2 separate regions of the Homo sapiens genome follow, and region 1 is linked to region 2. The links come from fine-mapping of genetic effects on gene expression. A gene starts in region 2. The other region holds a variant in brackets. All regions are shown on one strand. Distances are from middle to middle.

Region 1 (2,902 bases), 51 kb after region 2:
TGAGTGAGGAAGGAATGAATCAATGGAGCCCAGGGGGGTTTTAGAGCATTCAAACTATTCAGGATGATACTATGGGGACCAAGGGAGAGCTTTCCCCTTCTCCCTCTGAAGGACCACTGAAAAATCACTGACAGATTGTCTCATAGGAGAAAAGCATACATATTTGTTTAATGCGTATACACGGGAGCCTTTGAAATGGAGACCCAACTTCTCAACAGAGTACAGAGCTTAGATACCATCTTGAGGTTCCACAAAGAATGTGGGCTCAGAGCATGGCCAAAACTAGGTTAGGGGCTGGGCGCAGTGGCTCACAACTGTCATCCCAGCACTTTGGGAGGCTGAGGCGGGCAGATCACTTGAGCTCAGGAGTTCGAGACCAGCCTGGCCAACATGGCGAAACTCCCTCTCTACTAAAAATACAAAAATTAGCCGGGTGTGATGGCGGGCGCCTGTAATCCCAGCTACTTGAGAGGCTAAAGCAGGAGGATCCCTTGAGCCCAGGAGTTCAAGACTGCAGTGAGCTGTTATTGTGCCACTGCCCTCTAGCCTGGGTGATAGTGAGACCCTGTCTCAAAACAAACAAAAAAACCCCTAAATCTGTGGACTCTGGGTGATTATGACATGTCAATGTAGGTTCATAAAGTATAACAGCTGTACCCCCTGGTGGGGGATGTTGATAATGGGGGAGACTGGGTTGGGGCGAGGACATACGGGAAATCTCTGTAACCTTCTTCTAATTTTGCTGTGAACCTAAATCTGCTCTAAAAATGTATATATATAAAAAGTGGGGCCTTCCTTTCCCTCTCCCCTGCCCCAGCCCTCTCCCCCACCTCCTTCCTCTCCCTGCTGCCTCCCCTCTGCCCTCCCCTTTCCTCCTTAGCCACTGTAAATGACACTGCAGTGAATATCCTGGAGCACAAAGGGCATGTCTCCCAGTTCAGAATTACCTCCTTTATTTAGGGCAGGTTCTCAGAACTAGAGTAGCCGGGCAAAGGTCTGAGGCAAATGCCTTTGCCCTGGGGCGCCCCAGCCACCTGCAGGCCCCTTATTTCCTGTGGCCGAGCTCCTCCTCCCACCCTCCAGTCCTTTCCCCAGCCTCCCTCGCCCACTAGGCCTCCTGAATTGCTGGCACCGGCTGTGGTCGACAGACAGAGGGACAGACGTGGCTCTGCAGGTCCACTCGGTCCCTGGCACCGGCCGCAGGGGTGGCAGAACGGGAGTGTGGTTGGTGTGGGAAGCACAGGCCCCAGTGTCTCCTGGGGGACTGTTGGGTGGGAAGGCTCTGGCTGCCCTCACCCTGTTCCCATCACTGCAGAGGGCTGTGCGGTGGCTGGAGCTGCCACCGAGCGTCTCGGTGAGGGTGACCTCACACTGGCTGAGCTTACAGGCCCCATCT[G/T]AAGACTTTGTTCGTGGTGTTCTTTCACTTCTCAGAGCCTTTCCTGGCTCCAGGATTAATACCTGTTCACAGAAAATACGAGTGGCCTCCTCTTCCTCCACAACCTCACAGGACCTTCTCCCTTCCCTCCCGCTGGCCTCCTTTTCTCTCCTGTCACTCTGCCTGGGCATGCCCCAGGGCCTTGGCTGTGTCCTTTCTTTCCTCAGGGAAGACCACAAGTTTGGGCTAGATGCCTCCGCACCCCCCCACCCACACCCCCTGAGCCTCTAGTCCTCCCTCCCAGGATGCATCAGGCTGGATGGTGACATCTCCCCACCCTTGAATGAGACGGCTTTGTGCTGCTCTGGGACCCGCACCCAGCTTGGACTGCTTGCTCCATGGCCCCAGGAAAAGCTCGTACAGATAAGGTCAGCCACTTGGGTGGGGGGCCCACAGCATGTCACCCTCTCTGTCCCAGAAGTCACGTGCTTGGTCCCCTGTGAAGCCCCTCTGGGGACCTAGGGGACAGGCAGGGCATGGAGACAAAGTATGCCCTTTTCTCTGACAGTGACACCAAGCCCTGTGAACAAACCAGAAGGCAGGGCACTGTGCACCCTGCCCGGCCCCACCATCCCCCTTACCACCCGCCACCTTGCCACCTGCCTCTGCTCCCAGGTAAGTGGTAACCTGCACAGGTGCACTGTGGGTTTGGGGAAAACTGGATCTCCCTGCACCTGAGGGTGTAGAGGGGAGGGAGTGCCTGAGAGCTCATGAACAAGCATGTGACCTTGGATCCAGCTCCATAAATACCCGAGGCCCAGAGGGAGGGCCACCCAGAGGCTGATGCTCACCATGGGGCGCCTGCAACTGGTTGTGTTGGGCCTCACCTGCTGCTGGGCAGTGGCGAGTGCCGCGAAGGTAAGAGCCCAGCAGAGGGGCAGGTCCTGCTGCTCTCTCGCTCAATCAGATCTGGAAACTTCGGGCCAGGCTGAGAAAGAGCCCAGCACAGCCCCGCAGCAGATCCCGGGCACTCACGCTCATTTCTATGGGGACAGGTGCCAGGTAGAACGCAGGATGCCCAATTCCATTTGAATTTCAGATAAACTGCCAAGAACTGCTGTGTAAGTATGTCCCATGCAATATTTGAAACAAATTTCTATGGGCCGGGCGCAGTGGCTCACACCTGCAATCCCACCAGTTTGGGAGGCCGAGGTGGGTGGATCACTTGAGGTCAGGAGTTGGAGACCAGCCTGGCCAACATGGTGAAACCCCGTCTCTACTAAAAATACAAATATTAATCGGGCGTGGTGGTGGGTGCCTGTAATCCCAGCTACTCGGGAGGCTGAGGCAGGAGAACCGCTTGAAGCTGGGAGGTGGAGATTGCGGTGAGCTGAGATCACGCTACTGCACTCCAGCCTGGGTGACAGGGCGAGACTCTGTCTCAAAAAATAGAAAAAGAAAAAAATGAAACATACTAAAAAACAATTCACTGTTTACCTGAAATTCAAATGTAACTGGGCCTCTTGA
Region 2 (2,843 bases):
ACTCCAGCCTGGGTGACAGAGGGAGATCGTGTCTTTCAAAAAAAAAAATCACTTCAGAAACGGGGTACCCATACCCAAGGGGTCACTTGCTCTTACTAATTTCTAGCTGTAATGCAAGTGGCATGATCATAGCTCACTGCAGCCTCCAACTCCAGGGCTCAAAGGATCCTCCTGCCTCAGCCTTTTGAGTAGTTGGGACTACTGTGGCATGCACCACCATGGCCGGCTAATTTTGTATTTTTTGGTAGAAATGGGGTCTTCCCCTGTTGCCCAGGCTGGCCTCCAACTGCTGGGCTCAACTGATCCTCCCGCCTCAGCCTCCCAAAGTGCTGGGATTACAGGCGTGAGCCACTGTGCTGGGCCATGATTCTCATCTCCCAATATTCTCAAACCCAGTCCCTTCATCTCTTGACTGGATTATGCAGTCTCGGAGCTGGTTTATCTGAACTCACTTTCTCCCCCTTTGATCTGTTCTCCACACAACAGCCAGAGAGGTCTTTCAAATGCATGAATGGGATCACTGCTCCGCATAAAACCCTTCAAGGGGCCAGGCGCGGTGGCTCACGCCTGTAATCCCAGGACTTGGGGAGGCCGAAGCAGGCGGATCATTTGAGGTCAAGAGTTCAAGACCAGCCTGGCCAACATGGTGAAACCTCGTCTCTACTAAAAATACAAAAATTAACCGGGCATGGTGGCAGGCGCCTGTAATCCCAGCTATTCGGGAGGCTGAGGCACGAGAATAGCTTGAACCCGAGGCGGAGGTTGCAGTGAGCCGAGAAAGCGCCACTGCATTCTAGCCTGGGCGACACAGCGAGATTCCTTCTCAAAAAAAGAAACCTTCAGGGGCTCTCCACGGCACTGGGAAGCAGCCAGCCCGACGGGTGGACCCTTTTCGTGGGTGCGGGTCTCTGACCTCGGTCGGCCTCGGACCTCATCTCCTCCCTGTTTGAGGGGCCACACTCCTCGCTCCGGGGCTTTGCAGCAGCCCTGGGCGCCTACCGGACAGACGCCGTTCTCCCCGCCTGGGTCTTGAGTAGGGCCCAGCACACAGTAGGCGCTTAATGTCTGCCTGCCTAACAGACGAACGCCGGATGCCCGCGTTCGGCCCCGAGCCGGCGCTTCGGGGCTTTCTGTGGAGGCGGGGCGATGGTTACAGCACAGTTCCCCCGCGCTCGCCTTTTCCACATCCACCTCCGCGAGGCCCCCCGCAAGCGCCGTTGGAAACCTAGTCCCGAGGGGGCTGCAAGAGCTTGGGAGAAGAAGCGCCAACACCGACAGAATACCAGGCCGACCCAATGCGGAAATCAATTCTCAGCCGGGACCTTTTCCCCACCAAGCAGGCGGGCCGGAAGTCTGCCTCTGGCCCGCCCCCGAGGTGTCATTGGGTGGAATACCCAGAAGAGGGCTGGGACGTGGTTAACTCTAGTTCTTTATTGGTTAAAACGTACGAAGCTGGAGGAGAAGGTGGGACCTAGCTTCCTCCGGACTTCTCATTGGCTCAAAAAAAAACTCGCTCGGCCCTCGGATTCTCATTGGCTGAAGTCGAGGGAGGTTTGTGTCTTATTATCCTCCGGGTCCCTCGCTGGCTAGTAGGAGAGACTGGTGCTTGCCCCGCCCGGTGGACTAACTCGCTTAATTTTAAATAAAAAGTCGAGGACACGGCGGTCGTTTTCCCGAAGACATGGGCCCTCCCATGGGCCATTTGCTCCCTGGAGGCCCTCGCGTCTTGCTGAGCCCGGGGAGTTAGGATGACGCGAGCGGTGAGGGAGCCCGGAACGATTCCTTCGCGGAACAATTGAGGCGAGGCCTTTGGGAGTACTTTGTGGGACGGACCCTGGCGGGCCCTGCCAGACGCACAGGGATGGCGGCGGAGGCGGCCGATTTGGGGCTGGGGGCCGCCGTCCCCGTGGAGCTGAGGCGGGAGCGACGCATGGTGTGCGTGGAGTACCCGGGAGTGGTGCGTGATGTGGCTAAGATGCTGCCGACTCTGGGCGGCGAGGAAGGCGTCTCCCGGGTAAGGGGCTGGGAATCTCGGTGTTGGAATAAGAGCTCGGAGTCGCAAAGAAAACGAGCACTCAAAGGATTTCTCAGCAAGGGAAATTTAGCAAATTTACTTACGCAGAAGGGTGCTGCTCGCTCTTCTGGCCGCTGCAAGAGAGCCAACAGAACAAAGAAGGGAAGGATTTTTGTTTTTGTTTTTGTTTTTTTGTTGGTTTTTCAGGCGGAGTTTCGCTCTTGTTTCCCAGGCTGGTGTGCGGTGGTGCGATTTTGGCTCACTGCAACCTCCGCCTCCAGGGTTCAAGCGATTCTCCTGCCTCAGCCTCCAGAGTAGCTGGGATTACAGGCGCATGCCACCACGCCCGGCTAAATTTGTATTTTTTAGTAGAGAGGGGGTTTCACCATGTTGGTCAGGCTTGTTGGAAATAAATTTTGGGTGCCGCAAAGAAGAATCAGCACTCTGGCAAACAGTTTTCTCAGCAAGGCAAATTTCCTTCTATAGAAGGGTGCATCTTGCGGATGGAGCAATGGCGAGAGCACACCGACAAGGAAGGGGAAGGGGTTCCTATCTCTTACACAGCTAGTCTCTACTGCTGTGTCTTTCCCATATTGGCTAGGGTTGGACCGCACAGTCTAAGCTAATTCCGATTGGTTATTTCAAAGAGGGCAGGGGCACAGGCCTGAGTGGCGGGGTGAGTAGTTTTGGTGGGAAGGATGGTTACAGAGCAGGTGACTCAGGATGACTAAGGACAGAGCAGGTGATAGAAGCTAGGAAGGGGTTGTTTACTGAAACTAGGGGCAAGGAGGCGTAAAGAACGAGGGGTTAAACTTTAAAATGGAGAACA

The links. PIP is the estimated chance that this variant, and not a neighbour inherited with it, causes the effect. A credible set is the group of variants that fine-mapping cannot tell apart.
Region 1: its variant is the best candidate, but not a certain one, in a credible set for the expression of GTF3C5 in cerebellum (GTEx, PIP 0.63).

Annotation. Positions count from the first base shown.
Region 1 is chr9:133,080,334-133,083,235 of GRCh38, forward strand. It overlaps the pseudogene CELP. Among named protein-coding and RNA genes, the nearest start is that of CEL, 20 kb to the left of the region's middle. The variant G/T (reference allele first, on the strand shown) is at 1,397.
Region 2 is chr9:133,029,151-133,031,993 of GRCh38, forward strand. It overlaps GTF3C5 (general transcription factor IIIC subunit 5), which reads left to right and starts at 1,847. Exons shown (of 11, transcript NM_012087.4): 1 at 1,847-2,014. The coding sequence starts at 1,862. LOC105376306 (a long non-coding RNA gene) reads right to left here and starts at 1,272. Exons shown (of 2, transcript NR_135119.1): 1 at 1,000-1,272. RefSeq lists enhancers at 1,028-1,277, 1,512-2,163, 1,608-1,867.